Regions from separate parts of the Homo sapiens genome. Here regions 1 and 3 are each linked to region 2. Evidence: fine-mapped QTL for protein levels in blood plasma. A gene starts in region 2. Each other region holds a variant in brackets. All regions are shown on one strand. Distances are between the middles of the regions.

Region 1 (8,189 bases), 37 kb before region 2:
TATTATATCTTTCAAACATATTTATTTCCCTAGTAAGCAAAGACTGGTTATTTCAACTTAGTATTTTTTTAGTTTAATTAAAATTTCTTTGTAGCCAGGAAATAATTTATCCTTTTTTTTTTTTTTTTTTTTTTTTTTGAGACAGTCTCACTTTGTCCCCCAGGCTGGAGTTCAGCGTCTGATCTTGGCTCACTGTGACCTCTGCCTGCTGAGTTCAAGCGATTCTTGTTCCTCAGCCTCCTGAGTAGCTGGGATTGTAGGCATGCACAACCACACCCTGCTAAAATTTTTTTTTTTTTTTTGTATTTTTAATAGAGACAGGGTTTCGTCATGTTGGCCAGGCTGGTCTGGAACTCCTGACCTCAAGTGATCTGCCTGCCTTGGCCTCCCAAAGTGCTAGGATTACAGGCATGAGCCACTACACCTGGCGTATACATTTTTTTTTAATTAAAGAGTCTAGAGAGCTAGACATGGGAGATTAAACTGCATTTAGCTAATGAAAGCCAAACTCCTATGAGTTTAAATCTATCAGAAACTAAGCTTGAAGTCTGTGCATATTAGGCTTTTCAGAGGATCTGATTCACATTGATTGACTATGCACATTAAAATGATCACAAAATTGTTTGCAATGATAGTTTACCTAGTATGGTCAACATCATGGTCATCAACAAAGACAGTCCTTGCTCTCACGATGGCAGTCATAACAGGGACTTAACAAAGATTGTCACCACAAAGCAATTGCTGCATTGGGCAAAATCAGTGTTGGGACCAAAAATGCCTCAAGATTTGGAGAAGAGGCAGAGTTTACTCAGAGAGTAAACTCACTTGAGGACAATTTCACAGAGGGGATGGATCCTACATGAGAGAAAAGACTTTATAGGGGAATTTGGGTGAAGGGGATGGTGTAAACACAGAAACAGTAATGAATCATCAGTAATGATTGATAATAAATATTTGAATGGCAGATTTTAGAACCTTGAGGTACAGAAAGAGATCACCAGATCTAGCCTCTTGATTCTAAGGAAGTAAGGTTTTATTATCTCATTTTGCAGATAAAAATATATTTTAAGGACAAACCATCTGAAGAGGTTAAATTCGGTGACTAAGTCTTTAGTCCAGTGATTTTTAAAAATAAGTTTACTGCATAGGAATCACCTACAGAGATTTTTAAACATGTAGATTTCGAGCTAAAACCCTCGGGAGTCTGACTCAGTAGGTGGGCTAGGGCCTGGGATTTCCATTGTTTTTATAAGACCCTCATATGGTCACCAAATGTGGGAATCTCATTTGGAAAATGGTGCTTTGATATTATAGATAACCAGGGAACATCCTGTGCCATATTCCTACGTTAAGAATAATCCTGATAAATTGACAAATATTTGATTTATCTCATCACTGGTATTCATTACCTGTTTTCCTAGTTTTCAAAATTTCTTTCACAGCTGAAAAATGGAGGCCTGCCATCATTGCCCAGGAATTTGAAAAGTTCTGCAAAAATTTGAGTCCAGGAAGAATGTATTTTGCTTTAGCATCCCACTTAATGTGTTTTTTTGGATCCTATGCAGAGAGATAGGCAGCTACATCCAAAGCTGGATTTAAAGCAGGGAAGCAAATCCTATCTCAAACTAGCTTACAAACGTTGGAAGTTAGAATGTGATGAGGGCAGTGGTATTTCAGAGAAGGGAGACTGCTGTGGGTGTGGGAGATAAGAGGACATATATTATTTAAAAACAGCAAATGATAGCAAATTATGATGCAGTAATAAAGAGAGGAGAGCATGAAAAAAATCACAGGATTGCAAGTCAAGAAGCCTCTCTGTGTGACTGTAGTCAACTTGCTTTAACTTCTGGTGCTGCTTCATCCCCATCCTAATTCTCCCTGTCTTCATTTTTTTTTTTATTAGCAATAATTACACCTCAGATGAACCTCAATGGCTATGTTCTGCCACTGCACAAAGCTCTCTCTCTCTCTTCTTTTTTTTTTGAAGATGATTTCAGTAGCCTTCTAATTTGGTCTCCTAGTCACAATTGCCCGTTGCTCCTTAAACTAAACCACTCTGCAACTAGAAATCACCTTGTTAAAACTTTAACCAGGCCAGGCACAGTAGCTCACGTCTGTAATCCCGGCACTTTGGGAGGCCCAGGAGGGCGGATCATCTGAGGTCAGGAGTTTGAGACCGGCCTGGCCAACATGGTGAAATCCCCGCTCAACAAAAATACAAAAATTAGCTGGGCTTCGTGGTGGGTGCCTGTAGTCCTAGCTACTCAGGGAGGCTAAAGCAGGAGACTTATTTGAACCCGGGAGATGGAGGTTGCAGTGAGCTGAGATCCCACCACTGCACTCGAGCCTGGGTGACAGAGCAACAGTTTATCTCAAAAAACAAACAAACAAGAACAAAAAAACTTTAACCAGATTTCTAAATAAATTTTCCCGCTGGCAATATGTGATGACTTCCCTGTTGCTGAGGGACAAACTCCTTAGCATGACCTACAGCTACAAGATCGCCTGTCCCCAAAGAATGACACCTCAAGCCCTGATCTCCACCCTCCCGCACACTTTCAGCACTAGGTTTTTTTTTCTTATTTCTGCCCATGCACTTGCCCCGCCTCCTTGCCAGCCTTCTCAAACTTCTTTTCCTTCTGGTCAGTCCCTACATTGTCCTTTCTCTCCTCCTCCACCTGGCAAGCTTGTATATATTCATCGTTCTACGTTTAGCTCAGTGACACTTTCTCAGGGAAGTCTTTCCTACTCTCTGGATGGAGTTGGCCCTTCCCTAATAATTCTGGACTAAGTACATCTAGTTTGCAGTGGCATTTGTCTTTTGAAGATCCTCCTGGAATTTCCCAGCCAAATGGGTGAGAAACACTATTACTGGCAGGTGTGGGCTTCAAAGGTAATTCTCCTCTTGTTCTCATTGGAGGTAGAACGGATCAGTCAGTCATATTCTTGTGCTATTCTCTTTCTATGAACGTGTATAAACAAGAGGAATGAATGGGAAGGCTCACATTTCATTATAGATGATGATCATCCTCTTTCCTACTTGCAAGTTCTGAAAGATTTCTTGCTGGAAGCCTACCTATCTGTCCCACCATGGTGAATTAAAGCAAAAACGTTGGGCTGATACCATTATTCATTTGAAAGATATTTCAAGACCGTCCCTTCATCATCCCAGCTCACAAACCAGTAAAATCTCCCTTGAATACATTCAACAGAGTTTCTTATTGAGCAAAGAGCTTGAATAGGCACAATCATGGAGGAGTCATGAAACCAGGAAAAAATAAACAGTGGAGCCAGATAGACTTTAAGTGGTATAATGCTCTGTTTCTGCAGGATTTTCCACCTCAACTCCTTAATCTCATTTTAATCTCTATAGCAGTCATTAGATTCTAATACCGTACACAAGGCCCAGCAACCTGTTTTGTTGCTGTGGTTTTATGCTAAGTGGTTGATGTGGCACCAGGTTTGGGAAACATGAGCGTGGAATTGATAACTCTCATCTGTGTAAGCAGCTTCATCCAAAATTCTTCCTCTGCCCGAACTCCTACCCCTACCTCCCAAGCAGGTCCATGATTATGTTAGATCCTTTTTAGGCTCAATGAACTCCACATTTCCTAGCAAGTGAGCAATGGAAAAATGATGATCCTTGCTTTCTGAACTGGAAACACAGGCATAACATGGTTAAAGGGAGTTCCCCCTTGACTTCTGAGGCAAATGAGAGAGGAGCTGGAAAAGTGCCTGATGCAAGTGATTAGATCAAAGGGAATTCTTCGTCCCATGTCAGGTGCTGTTCCCCGTAATGCACA[C/A]CTTGCAGTGCACAAAGTTAATAAGTGCTGTGGCCATCTATAGTTGTTCCTCCTCAAGGCCACCTCCTAATAGCAATAAATTGTGAGATGGACCTTCTTACAGCTAATTAAGACCTTTCATCTTAGCCTCTTTGTTTTTCAAAATCTTTCTGTAGCAATTCAATAAAATTACAACTCAGCTATCCCTTTGTAATTACACCAGGAAAGGTTTGTGAACTAATTATTTCATGCATTCAAGCAGTAGAAGGGTAATTTATCAGGATGACAACATTGGGCAATTGTTCCTAAATCTGACTAAGTATCCAGCTCCAGGTGTGCTCTTGCTGTGTCAGGACTCCCTGCTTGACCCTAGGCCTCCAGATCTCTAAAGGGATGGGATCTTAAAGGCTATTTTTTAAAAGTTACCCTTGCCGGTTACATGATTAGTTCTGTTTCAGAAAGACTTGTCTAGTGCCCTCTTGCAGGGCTTCTTAACATCAGTCTCCCCTTGAGAGACTGTAAAAAGTGCAGATTTCATGTCCAACTCCAAGGGATTCTCATTGCTGGGTGATGTCTAGAAATAGGCATTTTTAACAAGTTGTCCAGGTGCTTTTGAAACAGGTGGCCAGTGTATTTCACTTTAGGGAACACTGCTCCATTAAGGGTTTGGCCAAAGATGGGCACAGGGTGAAAGAATATGACACATTTGTGAGGCTCAGCTGTTGTCTCTCCAAGGCCAGTTGCAAAGCAGTCCTCCAAACATGGCATCTACTTGCGTCTAGACACACCAGTGCCAGAGAGAGAATGAGGGTGGGGAAGACGACTATGGGGACAGGGCTGGGCTCTTCCTGGTGTATCTTGCTGTTTAAAGGCACAGAACCAGGCAGACATTCACGCCCCCCCCCCCCAACTCATCTGCTGTAACAGCTCCTCCCCAGCCTTACCCGCAATGTCTTCCTGGCTTGCATCTTTCCCTTTCCCCAATTTGATTTCAGCTCCAACTTTCATATTGCTACTAGAATTATTTTTGTAAAAGGTAACTTTTGTTTCTCCAGGAATTAACACTCTTTAAGCATACACAATAATTTTTCCCTACCAAATCCAGACTCCTCTGCAAAGGGTTTCAGACCGTTTGTCATTTGGCCTCTTGTACATTTCCAGCTTTACATTCTGTGCTGATTCAAATAGCACGAACACATGCCTCTGCCTGCAACATGCTTTCCGTGACTGTCTGGGAGACTCTTCAACTTTCAACCTTAAACTAAAGCATGATTCATCATGTGAAAGCATCTATGACCTGTCTGAGGAGAATTACTTTTCTCTTCGAATCTTGTACATACATGTGCCATAGCTCCTATTACTCTATATTATATTTATTTATTTTAAAGTCTATTCTGCACAAACGACTGCAACCATGTTTCAATATTATTTTATCCTAATGTTTATTCACATTAATATTAATACTTATTAATATTAATAAGAGTAAAAGTAATAATAGCTATTCAATGATTGCTAATTACTGTGGCAAGCTTCTATGCTTTATGAGTTATGTGAATTATGCCACTTAATCCTTCTGCCATGTTAAGAAATAGGTTCCACCCATAAAAAACAGCCAGTTAATGTTAGACAAAAGGTCTGTCTGACTTCAGAGTAGGCACTTTGTATTCAGTAGGCTCTTAGTAAACATTTGTTGAATGAATAAATTATTGGTATATAAATACATGAATGAAAAAATGATGCCAAGTTTTCAGAAGGGTTGTTAAGTAAAAAGTTATGGCTGTTGCTACTAGCAAATGACCTGCAGGGGGTTCTTGGGCAGTATTTTTATTAGCAGAGAGAGCAAAAAGGAGGTACCAAAAGTTGTTTATTTTTTTCTGTCTGAAAATTTCTTCTTCAACAATGAGGCTCACAAAGAAAACTAGAAGATAGATATTGAAATAAAATTCATGTGTGAAGAAATACACAGGAAAAAAATGACCTTAAAAGTTAAGTCAGTGGACAGAGGGTGGAACTGTGCATGGTATTTTGACCTGTTTATGCCCTGGTCACTCAGAGTGCCCCCCGCCATGGCTGAGGCCACTCCATCCTTTCTGGAGTCTTAGCCTTGCCTCTACTTCTGGAACAAGCCCTGTCCTGGGGAAGCCCAAGTTTCACTGAGTCCTTGCTCAGAGACAGCCTCATCTCGCCCTCTGATCTTGCAGCCCAGGCTCCAAGGCATTAATGTCCCAGTTCTGGTAATTGGGCTTTCTTCTTGTTTTGGGGACCCGGTGCCTATTTTGTGTAATAGATCCAGGGTGAAAGCCACTGTCTTACCCCAGTGGCTGGCCTCATGTTGTTAATCAGACTCCTGGTCAAGTCCCAAGTGTGCCTTGTCCTAGAGATCCTGCTACCTGCATAAGAGGCCCACCCAAGAGTGCCTGCTCACCTGGCTCTCCGAATGTGCTTGGCACTCTAGTAAAGGTATCACATCTGGCACATCAGCTTAGATTGGCGAGTTCATCTGGTTAAGTTGATGGTAGTTTGTCACCATCTGCCATGATCTATTTAGTTTTTGTCAGGGGCTAGACAGGTAAATGGAATAAGAATAGGATAAGGACCACAGTCTCTGCATTCTTAAAATCTTTGGTGGTGATGCCAATACAATCCTTTTAGGAATGCAGTATTATTTATGATTTACCGTCTTGGCTGCTGTGGAGACCAGGGCAGAGGAAATAGCTGAAGGCCCAAGAAACAACAACGAGAAAATCTAAGTAGATGCTTGAATGTGTCCAGTATAGAGGGTGAATATTATAACTGCCAATAAAGTATACATCAGACTATAATTTAGGAAAAATAGAAAGACACCAAGAAAATAAGTTTTCAGTATGGAAGAGAACATAAAAAGTTAACTCTGTTTTGAAGCTGGTTGACTCAGTATCCATGTGACTTTGAACAAGCCATATAACATACTGGGACCCTATGTTCTCATCCATAAAATAAAGAAAATTCATTGGAGGTCAATAACAGCAGCATAATTCCATGATTTTTAAAATTATTTTCTTGATGTCATTATAAAATCTGAGTAATTGAAGGAATCTAGGGGAAGAGTAAAAAGTAGTACATTTATAAACAACAATATACTTTATACTTCATGAAAGAAAAATAACATTTTGGAAAAATTAACTTAAAAATATCAAAAAGTAAAGCCTAAGTACTATGTGTAAAATTATCATATACCTTCTTCTATATATTTAAATGTTTTCATTTGCACTTCCAAATCATATTATTAGACAAGTATCTAACAATTAATATAAATAATGTACTTTTAAAAAGATATGTTCACTGAAGTTTTATGTTCCAGATATTTCTGCAGCTATGACATAATTGTGTTATACTCTGGATTACTATTTCTGTGGTAAGGGTTATTTTAAAATAAAGGCAATACGCTTACTTAAGTAAAAAAACATGAATATGGGAACTGACAGTGTGTCATGGACTTGATTTAAAATAGCCCATGTTCTGGAGTTCAGAGGAACTCAGAAGTATGTCAAAGGGCAAGGGGGAAAAAAAGCCATCCAGAAAGAAGTGAGGACAATGTCCCTTGGTCTGATTTGTGAGAAAGTAAGAATTACATTTGCAGAGTTTGGCAAGACAACTAGGAAAAAGAGCAAGAGCTAGAATAACTTCTTCCAAGTTCCAGGGCAATCAGAAATCAAAACCCCAGAGGGACCTGGAAAAAGGGAAATTTCACTTTGGAATTACTGGGAATGTTTAAGCTCATAGTCTTGCCTGATAATCTTATTAAAAGGATTCTGATTCTTTCCTTTGGCTAAACCAGAAAAGGAAAAGAAATACAGTCTTTAAAATTTGGACATGTTAGGGCAAAGAAAAAAGCATTTCCAATTAGATGTTTTCCCTAAGCCAGAACTCCTTCCTTTCGGAATTTAAGAAATAAATAATTAAGACAATTTAAAGAATATAAATATATTCCAGAGAACATCTTGGAGCAGCAACACAAATATTAAAAATATAGAGTTAAACTTCAATGATTATATGAAAAAGCACAGGCTTCAATGTACAAATGAACTTACAAACTCCACAATTTTTTTGCCAAAACATTAAATTATTTCCCCAGAAAAAAAGGACATAAGAGAAATCCTGAAAAAAATCAATTCTGTCAAAGTAATGCATGATTCTTTACACACACATGCAGTGTTAATCTACTCAGAAATAATCAAGGGGTTCTCTTTATTTGCACTAGATGAAAATGTTGCTACCTAGAATTTTCATTCATTATTATTTAACACTAGTAGCAATTATTAACAGAGATTTTAAAAGACATTTTTAAGCATTTGTATTCATCGATATACCTCTGAAGAACGATTGATATTTTTGTCTGGGCAAACCAAATTATTCTTGGTAGAATTC
Region 2 (8,154 bases):
CCACAGTGTGGTCATAGAGTCCACCTATATCTTGAAGCAGATATGAATAGTCCAAAAAGCCAGTCACTCCCTCTTTAGAAACACAGGATCAGGTTAAGTAATGAGCTGGCTATCCCCTCTTCCCTAATTCCCACTCTAGCCATCAAAGGGCTACAATTTCTGATTTAGATATACTCCTTTCAAAGTCTGAAGCATTACTGACCTCAGTTTTCATGTAAAAATTACTTGTCAGTTTTCAGCAGATGACCCAGCCTCTTGCTTAGAACAGTGATTTTTTTCCCCAGTGTCTCCAGTACTAAAAGATGAGGAATGACTAAAGATCTGTTCCTGATTGAAGGAGACTAAAGAGACATGATGGCTGAAAGCAACGCATGATCACGGACAGGATTCTGGGTCAGAAAGGCTGGGTTTTTTCCCTTTTTTTTAGTAGGAAAAGGAAAAACTGTCAGGACAATTGGTAAGGTTTGAGTGGGGTCTGTGGATTAGATAGCAGTATTGCCATCAGTGTTGATTTCCTGATTGAGATCCTTGTTTGGAGAGGAGTGGGGCAACATTTCTCAACTTACTCTCAATGACTGAGCAACAAACAGCTTGCTTCTTATGAAGAGAGAGAGGGAGGGAGGGAGGGAGAGAGATAGAGAGAGGTAGGGACAAAAGTGTTGGAATGTTGACAATTGTGAAATCTGGGCAAAGAGTATATATGGGAGTTTTCTGTGTTGTTCGGGAAGTGTTTTTGTAATTATTTCAAATTTAAAAGGTAACCAAAAAAAACCTCAACCAAATAGAATAAAGTTAGGGGAAGAAGGTGGCATGAAACAAGAGAAAATATCAATTGCCAAAAAATGAATTTGCCTAAAAATTCTTTACATGTTAATAAATATGATATGCATAACTCCTTAGAAAGAAATTGCTATTTTTTAGCGAAGACTTGGACTAACCCAAATGCCCATCAATCATAGACTGGATAAAGAAAATGTGGCACATATACACCATGGAATACTATGCAGCCTTAAAAAAGAATGAGTTCATGTCCTTTGCAAGGACATGGATGAAGCTGGAAGCCATCATTCTCAGCAAACTAACACAGGAACAGAAAACCTAACACCACGTGTTCTCACTCATAAGTGGGAGTTGAACAATGAGAACACATGGACACAGGGAGGGGAACATCACACACTGAGGCCTGTCAGGGGGTGGGGGCCAACGGGAGGGAGAGCATCAGGACAAATACCTAATGCATTCAGGGCTTAAAACCTAGATGACAGTTGATAGGTGCAGCAAACCACCATGGTACATGTATACATATGTAACAAACCTGCACATTCTGCACATGTATCCCAGAACTTAACGTAAAATTAAAAATAAAAAAAAAAAGGAACAGTCCTACTACAGGTGAATTTTCAAGGTGGTCAGCCGCCTCCATATGCTCTTAAATAGTGAGCACTTCAAATAAATAACCTTCACCAAAAACAAAAGAAAGAAATTGCTATTTTTATATATACCTATTAAGCAGTAAATAATAGATAAGAGATGGACTTATTTTGTAACTAGTAAAAATAAACTGGAAGTTGTCATATTAAAACAATTACTTGCTCAGAGTTAATTTGGTATGGTTGTTTTAAGTAAAATTTTTATTATAAGTGAAGTGATCCAGAAGTAAAAACAATGTAAAAATTCTCTTATAAGCCCCATATATAAAAAAATTATTGGAAAAAGTGATGTTTTAAAAAAATATATCTTTTATGTTAAGCAAATAGTCTCTTGAAATTATAACATCAATTCCTCTAGTGTAGAAAATACTAGCAAATGGAAGACTATTTCAATGACAAATATCACATTCAGACTATTAACCAAAGTTAATTTCAAAATACTTGTTTTCCTTATTGGATAATATAATATCGTCTTAAAAAGAAAAATTTTAAATAATTACTTTTCAGAGTCCTAGATTAAATGTACACTTTGAAAAGTCATTATATTATTGCATCTTTAAAATTGAAATTGAATGATGAACACAGTAAGGAATATGATACTTAGAGGTGTCACTGCATGTGGAAATAAGAATCTTAGATGCTTTATCAAATCCAGCTAAAGTACTATATGTGCAACAATAAATTATCAGACATATTTCTGAATACTTGTGTAGCTTCCAGTATATGTTTAACTTTACCAGTATCCATCATCAGTGGCAACCATAGCATCTCAAAATTAAAAATTATTCAAAACTACTTGATGTCTTAAAATGTCACAAGAAAATCAATATAGAAAATGAGATGCTGAAAGTTCATAGAAAAATGACATATTGGAGAAATGAGCCTTGAAACTGTCATAAGAACAAGACATGTAACTATTCTATAACAAACTACAGTATTCTAGTTCCTTTACTAGGATTAACATTAGGAACAATCTGATTAAAAATTTTTTTTCTACTTGAGGAAATGGTGTTCACTTTTTTTATATAATCAAACCAAAGTGCCAAAGGCTAGCGGTGGTAGCAACAGAAATAGCAGAGAACTTTCTTAGTTGAGAAGGGAGACTTGTGCTATATAACTGAGAAAGATGAAGAGAGTCTGAGCATCCCTCCACCATCTGATAATGACCAGAATAAAAGGCCTGTCATAGGACCAGGTCAGGAGAAGATAATGTACTAAAACTCTGTCTTTAGTCACTGTTAGAGAGATAAAGAACACTAATGAGAATTACCAGTTAAAAAAAATACTACTTATTTCTTTGGTCACTCATCCATAAAACATTTATTGAACACTTATGATATGCCAGATACTGTCTTAAGGATACAGAAGTGAGTGGAAAATATTTTCTTTTTTTGATATACTCATAGAATAGCTCAGGAGACAGCTGGGAAATAGCTCTTTGCAGTACTATGAAATAAGCTAATATACTTCTCTTAAACATTTATTTCTATCTTCACGCCATGGGGATTATCTAGCTCTGAACCAGTGTCACAGGGAAAGAGATGTTTGAGTTGGTTCAGGAAGATGGGTCTCTGCTGTCATGAGGCCAGCTCTATGTGATTCATGCAACTGGTTGTTGTGAAGGTCCAAATTCACCATTTGGTGAAGCTATTTACAAAGGCGTAGTAATTATGAAGACTTCTTCTACAAGTAACAAAAGCTCAGAGACAAAACTGTTTAAATAAGAATGGAATTTATTAACTAACATAATATAAATTTTTGAAATAAAGTGGCCTTCAGTTCCTTCCACGTTTCTGCTCTGCTATCCTCAGTTCTGGCCCCATCTTTGAGGAGGTAACACAATGGATGCAGCACTTGTAAATATCACGTGAGATAGAAAAATGTGTAGAGGCAAAAGAGAGACTGTCTCTCCCTTTGGTTCTCTCCTAGGGGTGGGGAATTTTACAGAAGCCAGAATTTTTATTTTATTTTATTTTAAGTTCTGGGATACATGTGCAGAACGTACAGGTTTGTTATATAAGTAAATGTGTGCCATGGTGGTTTGCTGCACCTATCAACCCATCACGTAGGTATTAAGCCCCACATGCATTAGCTATTTATCCTGATGCTCTCCCTCCCCCCATAGCCCTGGCCCCAACAGGCTCCAGTGTGCATTGTTCTCCTCCTTGTGTCCATGTGTTCTTACTGTTCAGCTCCCACTTATAAGTGAGAACATGAGGTGTTTTTCTCTTCCTGCGTTAGTTTGCTGAGGATAATTGAAACCAGAAATCTGATGTTAGCTTTTGTCTCATGGGCCAACTGAGTTCTAAACGGACCACAGGAATATCATTCTATGACAGGAGAATCAAAACAACAAGGAAGATTATGCTGATGGGAGACCTTTGCTACACTACCCAGCTGGCCAACAGGCATAGCAATGTATGCTTGCTTTCTTTAAAGCAGAGAGTGCATACACATCTCGAACCAGTTAAGCAAACGTTTAACAACTTGCTCTATATTTGAACATCACCTCTGAATGCACTTTCAACTGCTGAGGCACTTATTTTGAGCTTGGGTCTTAGTTTCCTGAAATTAACTCCAGGATTTTCACTTACCCTGTTTTGCACTGTAGATAATTTAATAATTGTCCCACCCATAAAGATATCACATTATATGTTTCTTCTTTATATGTTTTCATCAAAAGCCATCCTTTATTCCACTTAAGTTATTGTTTTACAGTACCAAAATATCAACCTCCTGTTTATTTTGTTCACAAACAATATTTTCTGAATTAAATAAATACTTCATACAAAGCAGGTAAAAATATAAATATTCTTCTTCTGGTCCCTGACACTAACTTTCCAACATCTTCTAAAGTTAACTGGAGTTCAAAACCGTAATGTAAATCAACAGCTACTGAATCTACTCCTTCTTACTAAACTCAGTACCTGCAAAGTCCACTTCCATTATTGGGGTTGCAGAAGATGGTTTCAGAAGTAATGGCACAGAGATTGAAACCATTTGCTGCCTTTGTCTTTCTTTTAGAATGCAGATTCCAAACATCTTTTTCTATATGAAACTTGCCAAAATTTTTTCTTATAATTTAAAATATCTTTTAATGTAGAGTTTACTTTGTAAGCCTGAAAGACGAATTTTGTAGGCATTCGCTCTGCTTCCTTTTCAGAGCTTAAATCATATACTATTATCCAATGATAATTGTCACCTTTCTTTCCTGTCCTCAATTACCTTCGATTAACAACAATGATAATATATTAATAATACCCTCCATTTCCCTCCAAGCAATTATAGGCATTTTAGTTACATTAACTAATATCAACCCATCAACCCTGTAAGGAAGGGAAGGGAAGATATTATTTTAATGAAGAGGATGTTTGAGCACTGTGACTTACCCAAACAAAAAACAGCTGAGGTGGACCAAGCAAGGATTTCTTGTCTTAGGTAGGAAAACATCTCAGCCAGGTGTTTATCAATTTGTCAGGATATTCCTCCAGGGTTGACTCAGTATTCATTGTTCAAAAAGCTGATGTCTATTGAAGATTGTCTCCGTTCCACAAGTAATATTTGTCAGGTGACTTGGGTGTAAATCTTTTTGCTAGAAGCTAAAATCATTGACCAGAATTTAATTTTACATGCTAATTTTCTGTCTCTTAATTTGGAGGTAAATAAAATGAGTCAAATGCTGGTGCCTAGAATCTTTAGTCTTGCTGCTGTTGCCCATTGGCCATTTCAGAAGAGTCACGTGATGAAGACGCTCTTTAAATTAAACTACTGGCAGCACCGTAATGCCTATATTTCTTTGGTTTTCAATTACGAGTGGCTCTTCTCAGCAAGTGTTCCATGATGGTTGAGCCCTTCTTGGGAACCTGGAAGCTGGTCTCCAGTGAAAACTTTGAGGATTACATGAAAGAACTGGGTGAGAAATACCATTACAAATTTGGAAATTGGCAAAGCATTTTGTGATGTGATTGGGTTTGTACTTTACCATGAATTTTCCTACAATTATCTTCCTTTTGTGATCCTAGGGTATATAGACTAACACAATGTATGCTTCTACTTTTGCTTTTTTAAATTACTAGTAATAATTGTCTCTTTTTGGAAGACTAGGCCCACAGACACCTCTGTCCAGTCATGATCCATATATTTAAGCCCATTTATCCTTTTTGAAAATACTTCACCTAACTTCTAGATAGAATTTCATTTTAGCTTGGTCATTTCATTTAATAACATTTTTCCCAGCTTCAAATTTATAGACAGTAATCACTACCTACAATTAAATTGATCAATTAAATTTGTTTCAAGGTTTAAGTTATAGCTTTAAAACAGCAGTATCAACTAACAAAATTTCTAGTTGGTTAATTTTTAGAGTTCTCATAAATGTGAGAGATATTTTATAAACATGGTTTTGAAGAATTACAAATCTGAAGAAACACAACATTTTTACTCATTGAATGTCTCACCACTGGATATTCCTCAGAATTATAAACCCTACCAATCCTTTAATCTCTAACTCAAGTCATTTAGTTACACATTAATTATAATGACTTGGGTGTATAATAGCTAAACTGTTCTTTACTAATGGAAGAACAGCAATTATTTCATATTTTTCATATTTAATTAAGAGAAACCTCCCTTGTAGTAAACTGTATACAAAGCCAAGGACTTTCTTATCTTTACTTTTTTTTAACTTACATAACATGCTTAATGGATGCTTACAATTATTAATTATGTTTACTCATTCTAGACAATGAAATAACAATGCCTTATCCCCATAATAAGTCAATGTGCTTATAAATGTAATATTTGTTCCTCTGATGTAGTCAATATTCACTTTCTCAGAGGGTCATAAGAAACAAGTTTTTCTGTCTCTTCATAGATTTATAGACTCACTTGTTTTGAATAAAAATTGGGGGGGTATATAAAAAACTTGGGCCTTATGGCCAGAGTAGCACTTGTGTTGACTGGGAGCTGGGTTTAGGCATAATACAAGCAAGAATAACAGCTGAGCAGTTTCTATGTGCCAGTACCATGCTAACCCCTTTCATTTAACCTTTTAAAACATCCGCTGGCTGGGTACAGTGGCTCAGGCCTCCAATCCCAGCACTTTGGGAGGCCAAGGCAGGTGGATCACCTGAGGTCAGGAGTTCGAGATCAGCCTGGCCAACATGGTGAAACCCCATCTCTACTAAAAATACAAAAATTAGCTGGGCATGGTGGCATGTGCCTGTAATCCCAGCTACTCGGGGGGCTGAGGCAGGAGAATCGCTTGAACTTGGGAGGCAGAGGTTGCAGTGAGCTGAGATTGTGCCACTGCACTCCAGCCTGGGCAACATAGCGAGACTCTGTCTCAAAACAAAAAACAAACAAACAAACAAACAAAAAAAAAACTTGCGAGGTCAAGTATACAGTTATCCACACTTTACTATTGAGAAAACTGAAGGTTAGGAGAGGTAAATAATATGCCCAAGCTAGCAAGTGGCCAAGTTAGAGCCTGGGTTTTAACCATCTCACTCTTCTTTGTGATGCAGATGTCTAACACTGCTTCTCTACAGTAAGATGTGTCATATCAGTTCCACAATCTAAATGTGAAATGGAGTTTGATATCAGGACAGAGAAGGAGTCAGCTCTTCTGCCCACCAACTGCAGGAGTCAAGTTTGACAATGGGAAATTCCCAACCAAACCACAGGGCCAGGCTCTAAGTCAAACTCCTCCCGCACCCACAAGGTTATCGTAACACTCCACAAGGTGAAGTGCAAGCATTTGATCTCTTGAAAGGCACCATACAAATTTACATTTTAGAGGAAGTGTAATAGTCTCAGAGAGTGAATTTAGCTTTTCAAAATGTCACATATATACCTTATGACTGGGAGGATCTAGCTCAGCCCTGATATCACAGAAAACATAAAATAAGTTACTATACATTATCCAAAATTTCAAAATAGGTAAAGTAAGCATTCTTTGAAAATTGACTTCCAGAGTGATTGTTAACAATGTCTTAATAAGGTCCAAGGCTATCTCTGTCTTGTAGGAGTGAATTTCGCAGCCCGGAACATGGCAGGGTTAGTGAAACCGACAGTAACTATTAGTGTTGATGGGAAAATGATGACCATAAGAACAGAAAGTTCTTTCCAGGACACTAAGATCTCCTTCAAGCTGGGGGAAGAATTTGATGAAACTACAGCAGACAACCGGAAAGTAAAGGTCAGAACTAATTCTTCCTGGTGTTCAACAATCAGGAAAAAGTTAGAAGGTGGTTAGGCATGGTTTACTGTAATTTGATTTATCACCAAGTCTGTCTGGGCTTGTTCTGTTAATAGTCGCACATCTCTAAAGTTAATCCTTTTGCTAATTATTTTGATGGTTAACAATAGGGCTAAAAGATTCAAATTGTTTTCATTTCATTTTTTCTTATCTCTTTGTCATATGAAAGAGCACATAGAAAGAAACAACTAAACACAAATAGCTTATGCATTGTTTGCCTAGGAAAGAGCACTAATTGAATAATCTCTTGAGACTTCTAGTTTGATAGTACTACATCATGACAACAAAAGTGAGGATTTTAAGAAAAGAATTTCAAAATAGAAATTAAAAAGTAGATATGTGGTCTCATGTAGGTTAGAAGGTAGTGAGTTGCTACTTCTGATTTCTTTATGCATTTATAGAGCACCATAACATTAGAGAATGGCTCAATGATTCACGTCCAAAAATGGCTTGGCAAAGAGACAA
Region 3 (8,189 bases), 450 kb before region 2:
CCTGGGCTGGGGGCATTCCTTGGCCCAGTGGCCAGATTTCTGGCACTTGAATTAAGATCCAGGGGGAGGAGGTCCTGAAGGAAGCCCTGACCACTGTGGCTTAGGCGTTTTGAAGTTCTTGTGTGCTGGAGATGTGGCTGGAGTTTCTCTCACAGTGGAAGCAAGGAATTGCAACTCAGAAATACATTGCTACTTGGCTGTCTCTATTATTGTACACCTTGAAGGCAAGGTTAATTAAGTCCTGTGGTGGGGTTTGAGGGCTGGAATCTAATTTTTGGAGCTTTTTTTTTTTTATGTCAGGAGCTGACTGGGTAACAAAATGCATATTGAGAATAAGATGGACTTCTGGCCCTTCTGGGTCTAGGGCTGTAAAGCATCTCAGGATTGCTGCCAAACGGGCCATGAACCAGGCTGGGTTTTTCATATTTGATGAAAAAGAGCCTAAACACTAACTGATTTGGGAGAGGTCAAATAAAGAAAATGGAGCATTAACCTTGGCTATGCCTTCAGCTCTAGCCACCTCTTTAAGAGGAAATTGTTGGGCAGGTGGGGGAGGGCTAGTTGTGGAACAAAACTGTAAGCCAGACTGGGTGTGGGGAGAGGAGGTGATAGAAGGATTACAGGGTGGAGGAGCAGAATCTGAGGAAGAATTGGAGTCTGATTCAGCCTGGTGGGGAGTGACCTGAGGAGCAGTCTGGGGATGAGGGGAGAGGTCAGATGGATCGGTAGAAAAGGAAGATTGAAAAGACTCAGCAATGCTTGGGGTTGGGACTGAGGGCACAGGCAGGAGGGAAAGAAGGAGGATTTGGGACGAAACGCATTGGGAACAGAGACTAGGGAGGGACCGATGTGTAAAAGAATGCCTGGACGTCAGACACCTCAGACCATTTGCCCATTTTACAACAAGAATTATCTAGATCTTGTAGGATGGAAAAATCAAAAGTGCCATTTTCTGGCTATTTGGAACTATTGTTGGGTTTGTATTGGGGTCAAGAGGCATTTCAGAAGAAAATAAGGCATTTAGGTTTAGGTCAGGTGTGAGTTGAAGAGGTTTTAAGTTTTGAGAACACAGGCTAAGGGAGAAGAGGGAGGAATGGAGGGTGGAAGTTTGCCCATAGTGAAGGAGGCAAGCCCAGAGAAAAGAAAGGGTAGAGACATGGAGAGAAGTGGTGGGGGGTGCTTGCCCCCCAGGAAAGTGGAGAGAAAAGAGAGGGTAGAGACAAGGAGAGAAGGAATTTCACAAGGTAATGTCATCAGTTAAGGCAGGAACCAGCCATTTTCATGTCTTTTGTGATTCTTCACTTTCTTCAGGCCATCTGGATGTATACGTGGAGGCTTGGGCTCAGAGGCCTGGCACTGCTGATCATCAGTTTCAGGTTTTTCTGTTTATTGGGAGACTGCCTTTCCCTGGCACTGGCTGTGACCAATTATTATTTTAGAGAGGCAGTTTAACAACTACCTGACCATCACCTGATGGTTGCCTGACATTTCTGGTGGGATGGGGAGCCTCTCTTGCCCTGCTTATTTATGACTAGTTACCTACCATAATAATAGCAATGATATCAACTATGAATTACATGTATTGAATATTTATTATGTGCCAGGTATTTTGCCTCTACTATCTCAATTAAACCTCAAAGAATCCTCATTTTATAGATTTTTAAACCAATACTTAGAAAGGATATCTAAATTGTTCATACCTAGCAAGTGATAGGATAGGGATTTAAACCAAGGCAGTCTGATTCCAAAGCCACCATGTTTAAGCAAGCTGCTACACAGCTCAAAACAAAGATTTATGCATAAAAGAGTAAGAGTGGCAGGTAGATTTTACTAGAGCTGAGCTCAAATATATAAACCAGGCATCAAAAGAAAAGGATGATTATTGGTCCTACAAAGAAAAATAAGGAAAGGGTAATTAACGATCTGTTGGACCAGTACTAAATAGAATTCAAAGGTGCCTTAATCCCTTCTGGAAACATTCTCTAAAACTCAAGATTGATACAGGAGGTAGTTAGGCATAAACCACAATTAACCAGTGCATGGGAAAGGCAAAACTAAGGGTTTTAGGGAAGTTGAAACTTTGCCTCTGAAAATTTGAGTCTAAGTCTGCTGAAATTATTTGACAATTTTGAAAATAAACACAATTTAAAAGCTGTTGGAACCCCCAAAACACTTTAAGCCTTAAGAAAGATGTGACTGTGATCTGAGTCACATATGGTTACAACTTCTATTTCTCAGATTATAAATTAACTCACTTTCTTATTTATCTTTTTCTTCACAGTGACTAGACAGAATTAAATGATATCAGGGACACAAACCTCTGCCTTTTAGTGACCCTTGTTACAGATTAATTTCTCATTTGTTGTCCTGCTTTGCTTAGACCAGATGACAGAAAACCCATGACTATTATGCCTTCCGTAAAAAGTGTTAAATATACCCTTCCCCAAAAGAAAAACCATCTGTAACCAATCACATTGCTGTAATTATGCTCTAGCCTTGTATGTAAAATGTTGTAATCCTGCTAAAACTCATCTCCCTCTGCCTATCTAAATGAAACCTAAACTTTCCTACTTCTGAATTCTAATTCCATCCCTTAGAAGTTGGTATTTCCAAGAAGGCTATCCTTAAATTCTGCACTTGAATAAACTCTCTTTAAATTAGATTCTGACTCTTTTGATTATTTTAGGTTGGCACAATAGATTATCAGGAGAAAAACAAAACTCATTGTATGCATAGGCATGGGGACCACACACAAAAGTATGAGACTCAAAGAAATCTCACATTTCTTTGAGAGTACTGAAGTTTTAATACCATATGGAAAGGAATAGAGGCTTGGAACATGGAGATCAGTTATGGGAGGGAGAGGGGAGGAATTGCATATCAAGCAAAAAGTATCTTGTTATGCAAATGAAATCTCTCAGGTAGCAGCTCTCAGATTAGATAATAGCCTATAGTGAAAGTTTCTCTGTTAGAACTTCAAAAGTGTCTCTTTTTCCTAAGTTAATCTTTCCTAGATCAAGATAATGTAGATAAGGTCTCAGAGAAATCCTGTTCGCATCTACTGTTTACTTCGCTAATGTAGATTTCCTCTACAGATGTAAATCTCCTCCACAAAAGGACAACTCTTCAGAACTATTCCTTTGTCTGTAGCCCCTCTGAATATCCATCTCAAAATATGCCAAAAAAGTATATTTTGGGGTGAGATACTCTACTTTCCTTCAGGGTGAACATATTTTAAGAGTTTACTTGTAAGTCATGGACATAAACGTGGAAATAATAGACACCGGGGACTCCAAAAGGAAGGAGGGTGGGAGTAAGGGTGAGGATTGAAAACTTACCTGCGGGTTACAATGCCCACTATTTGAGTAATGGGTACACTAGAAGGCCAGTCCCCACTAGTAGGCAATGTACCCATGTAACAATCATAAATATGTACTCCTTGAATCTAAAACTAAAAATTAAAAGTTTAAAAAAGAGTTTACTTATAAGTGATTTAAATTTTTATTAAGCATATTTTAATAAAAATAAATTTAAATCAATTCCCATAATGAATAAAGTATTAAAAAAAGAAAAGGAATATGAAAACCTACATGAATCAAAAAAGA[T/C]TGACATAGAGATTTGCATGGAAAATGGGGGTGATGGAATCATGTGGTTCAATATTATATTGGTTTCAATGGGCCATTAATATTCATTTTTATGTTCAAATTGACATTTGTTTTCCTCTTTTCTATAATTTTTATGGTGGCAATTACATATTCCATATCTGCTGACCCATGAATCAGATATCCAATGAGACCCTCAGTAGTCTGATCCAAGAAAGGAATTATCTGGCCTTTTGAGGAATAGAGAGTAGAATCGACCTGACTGAAAATGACTCAAGATTCTACCACACCTGGTCTATATTGAGATATGGGTTTTAGGACCCTTTAGAATTGAAATACCATCTTCTTGGAGAATTTCATTTCCAAGTTTTGTGAATGTTAAATATAATGAACCCCAAGTTACTCTTCATATGTTCAGCTCTGTTATTCTTTTATTCTCCATTTTAAAGTTTAACTTCCTGGTTCTGTTCGCTCCCTTGCTTCTAATTTCAGTAAACAACTTTCCCACCAGTCCTAATTAGTAGTTCACATCTGTTCCCTGGTCACCTGCTCCATCCTGACTCATCCTGATCAGCTGCTTTGACCTAAGTCACTCCTGGTCACCTGCTCTGACCTAAGTCACCTCTAGTTACCTGTTCCTAAACGTCCTTCCCACCAAACTACTCACCCCACCACTCTGGCTCATACCCCTGACCTCTTTAAAATAGCCAATCAGAATTAGCTTAGACTGTGCCATCCAACCGTAGCCAATAGGGGAACAACACAGCAGTAGGGGCTACCTGCATCAGGAATAAGAACTCTTTCCCCTCCCCTGTCCAGGTATGCTCTTGCCATTACTCCATTCACAAGTCGCACCCTTCTATAGAAGTAAAAATTGCCTTGCTGAGAGAATTAAATTTATGTTCGAGTGCTATTTCTTTGCAGCACCAAGAAACAAGCATTTTGCATTTCTAACATGAATACATTTAAATATTAAATTTATAAATAGATGGATTGGTGGAAAAGTAGATAAGTGGCTTTCTCAGAGAACTCGTGAATATGCAATGTAAACTATGATGTGAGAAACTTAGTATAATCAAAAAGAATGAATTAAATTCAAATTTTTATCCAAAATAATACACTTTTGAGATTCCATCAGTAAATTGTTTGCCAAAATTACATAGGCCAAATGTAATATTCTATAAGACATTTCATGGCTTGTAACTTTGTGTGTAAAAACAACTCTTTAACTCTCTTATTCTCTAATTTGGCTCAATTTTTCTAAAGTTTCTCTTTTATATGGCCATTCAACGCAGCATGATTGCTGCATATAATATAATATGACAAGATTGCCCATTAACTTGTTTTCTAAAATACCCTTAAGTAACTGAGTTAATACAATATTTAGAATGGAGCAATCAGGTGGGAAATCTTGCTCTTAACTGTAGCGACTGCTGAGCACATAGATTACAGCAGTCTCCCTTCAGCCTTTTATTCATGAGCCTTCAATGACAATTTGTTCCTCCAGGAATCTAGTGCTCCAAATCAAACAAAAATTTTAAAGACAATGTTTTCTTCTTTAGAAAACAAATTTTAAAATATAATAAAGAGAATTATTCTGCTTGCTTTTTCTTCCTGTGTCTATGAAAACGTTCATACCAGTCTCCATTAACTGCTGAAGTGTGAAATGTATTCAGAACTTTAAAATTAATGTAGTTAACGTATGTTATTTCAGAAGAGAGTTTTTGTAAATGTTGGTCTTTTAAACCTCAATTTTTTCTTATCTAGTAAAGTGAAAATGTAGGATATACTGTTAAATGACATTTCTCTAACTACAACTTAAAGAATCAATTTTTTATCAATAGATCATAAATATTTGTATCTACCAGACATTATATATCGTTTACAACAGAATCTCCTGAGTAGTTACTATTTAATGCAAATTTCTAAGCTGTTGTCTAGATTTACTGAATCAGAATTTCTGGATATCAGGCAAGGTAAACTACATTTTAATTAGTCTCCCAAAGGTTCTTTGGACATATTAAAATTTGAAAGTGTTTGAATTATAGATTCCATAATTCCTCATCTGGATTCCTGGACTTATTTACTGAAGCTTTGTGCAGTGAAAAATACATGTATTTCTACCATATACATACATATGACAAATAAGTTACCAAAATATAATATTCAGATTTTAAATGTAGACTCATTATTTATAATATATTTTTATTTTCAAATATATAAGCCATAATGAATGAGATTTAAGGGAAATTTGATTTTTATTATTGTTAATGGTATTTTATTATTGTTAATGGTATGTGTATCAACCTTAGACCCAGAGCCAGATCAATGAAGTCATTACTTATTTATTCTTTAAATAATCTTATGCCAATCCTTCTACTAAGTGCTGGAGATACAAACATGTATTACACATAGTCCTTCTAGCATTAAACAAAAAAGACTGAAAAACAGATCTCAGCAATATAATGGCTTAATGCAGCACTAGAGATATGCAAAAGTATTTCTGGAAGCACCAAAGAGTACAACTATCTCTTGTTGGGTGGAAAATGAATGGAAAGTATAAAGAAAGGTTCCTTGGAGATGACACATGGGTTGGAACTTAAAAGTAGGAATTAGGTTGCATAGGATGAGAGTTAGAAGCATTCTAGGCACAGACTGTAGAATGAACAGAGATATAGAGATAAGAAATAGCATGGTATGTGCGATAAACTGAGTCATGTAGTGAACTGAAGAGAAAACGGAATGTCAGGAAATGGTTTAGATTTGAAACTTGAAAGACAGGCAAAAGCTAGATCATTAAATGCATAGTGAGAGATGTAAATTGTCTTGGACTTTAAATAATTTTTATTCTGCTTTTCCCTTCTCTGGGACTGAAAATACACATTTGATAGACTACTTGATATTGTCCCAAAAGTTCACTGAGACTGTGAAAGGAAAATAAAATTTTGGGACACCAAACTCACTATATCAAAGGGAAGTTCAGCTTGGGAACAGAGTCACACAAAATCTACCTTCCTTTTTGTTTCTAAACAGATAACTACAAAGATAGGAAGCCACATATCTCTCTAGATGGCTTCCTTCATAAATTCCTTCCAAGAGAATGGCTTATGGACAACAAAATCTTTACCCTAAAACATAATTTTGTTGAATTTCATCCATGTCCCTGCAAAGGACATGATCTCATTCCTTTTTGTGGCTGCACAGTATTCCATGGTATATTTGTGCCACATTTTGTTTATTCAGTCTATCATTGATGGGCATTTGGGTTGGATCCATGTCTTTGCTATTGTAAATAGTGCTGCAATAAACATACGTATGCATGTGTCTTTATAGTAGAATGATTTATATTCCTTTGGGTATATACCCAATAATGGGATTGCTGGGTCAAATGGTATTTCTGGTTCTAGATCCTTGACGAATCACTATACTATCTTCTACGATGGTTGAACTAATTTACATTCCCACCAACAGTTTAAAAGCATTACTATTTATCCACAGCCTTGCCAGCATCTATTGTTTCCTGACTTTTTAATAATCACCATTCTAACTGGCATGGTTTTGATTTGCATTTCTCTGATGATCAGTGATGTTGGGCTTTTTTTCATATGTTTTTTGGCCATATAAATGTCTTCCTTTGAGAAGTGTCTGTTCATATCCTCTGCCCACTTTTTGATGGGTTTTTTTTTATTGTAAATATATTTAAGTTCTTTGTAAATTCTGAATATTAGGGTCTAGTAATTTTTGATTAGGTGATGGATAGTGTGTATTTTACATTGCTGGGGTCTAGATTTTGGTCTGATAGGCAGTATATTTAGTTGATCCTTTTGAAGCTTGTTTTTAAGCTTTGAAGAGAGGGTATTAAAATACTCCCTCTCAATGGGTGTTCCACAAGATAATTAAACCCTAATGTCTAAGGCAATGCTGTAGATAATGAATTAATTTCTCTCTAATGTATTTAGAATGGTATTATACCAAGCTTGAAAGAATTAAGAAAATACTTATTCATATTATGTTTCATAAAACCTCAGTTGAAAAAGACAATTTAGGCACATGACTAAGGTATAACCCCTTTGACATCTCCCCTAAAGGCCAGGTGTTCAAAAAGACTCTTGATTCTAGCTGACCAAAACTCAAATGTCTCCCGGCCCTGTACGAATTCTAGAAACTTTTCAACTTACAGCTTTCCAGCAGTTTTTTTGCCTGGCCTCAGGGAGTTTCTTTTACATAGGCACAGCTTAGTATTTAGCAACAAACTCTACGGGATTCCTATACAGATTTTTTGACATTCTTTCTGCATGCAACTTTAACCTCTTTGTTATTCTGTTCACAAATTCCAGATGCATCAGTCTTCCTGTACACTAGACTCTGTCTGCTTAATTCAATGATACCACTGTGCTCTGATGGAGATAACCAACCCTGCACTGTAGTCCAGAAAGTGCCTGAAAGCAGAAAGCTGGGACTTATCTGACTGTAGGCTTATCTTATTTGTTTTCCTTCTTTCAGAACTGTGCCAACTGCTTGATCAATATCTGAAAATTGCTGCTTCATATGTAGTCCAGTTTTCTAGTTGTTTGTGGAAGGATGGTA

Alleles and levels. Positions count from the first base shown, and alleles are read on the strand shown. Strength reflects both the effect of a copy and how common the allele is.
For the plasma level of the protein whose gene starts at base 5,215 in region 2, allele A in region 1 goes with a lower level than allele C (moderate association).
In carriers of allele T in region 3, the plasma level of the protein whose gene starts at base 5,215 in region 2 tends to be higher than with C alone (weak association).

The links. PIP is the posterior inclusion probability: the model's chance that the variant is causal. Protein levels are from antibody-based Olink assays in UK Biobank. Linkage for the fine-mapping came from a reference panel and not from the study's own genotypes, which makes the PIPs less certain.
Region 1: its variant is fine-mapped to the plasma level of the FABP9 protein (UK Biobank, PIP above 0.99).
Region 3: its variant is fine-mapped to the plasma level of the FABP9 protein (UK Biobank, PIP 0.96).

The regions. Positions count from the first base shown.
Region 1 is chr8:81,496,071-81,504,259 of GRCh38, reverse strand. All of the region lies in intron 1 of LOC101927118 (a long non-coding RNA gene), which reads right to left. Among named protein-coding and RNA genes, the nearest start is that of FABP4, 17 kb to the right of the region's middle. The variant C/A (reference allele first, on the strand shown) is at 3,804.
Region 2 is chr8:81,458,640-81,466,793 of GRCh38, reverse strand. FABP9 (fatty acid binding protein 9) reads left to right here and starts at 5,215. Exons shown (of 4, transcript NM_001080526.2): 1 at 5,215-5,343; 2 at 7,457-7,629; 3 at 8,091-8,154. The coding sequence starts at 5,271. LOC101927118 (a long non-coding RNA gene) reads right to left here and starts at 5,336. Exons shown (of 9, transcript XR_001745980.2): 1 at 4,820-5,336.
Region 3 is chr8:81,907,578-81,915,766 of GRCh38, reverse strand. The region is part of intron 7 of LINC02235 (long intergenic non-protein coding RNA 2235); the gene reads right to left. Among named protein-coding and RNA genes, the nearest start is that of LINC02235, 69 kb to the right of the region's middle. The variant T/C (reference allele first, on the strand shown) is at 3,606.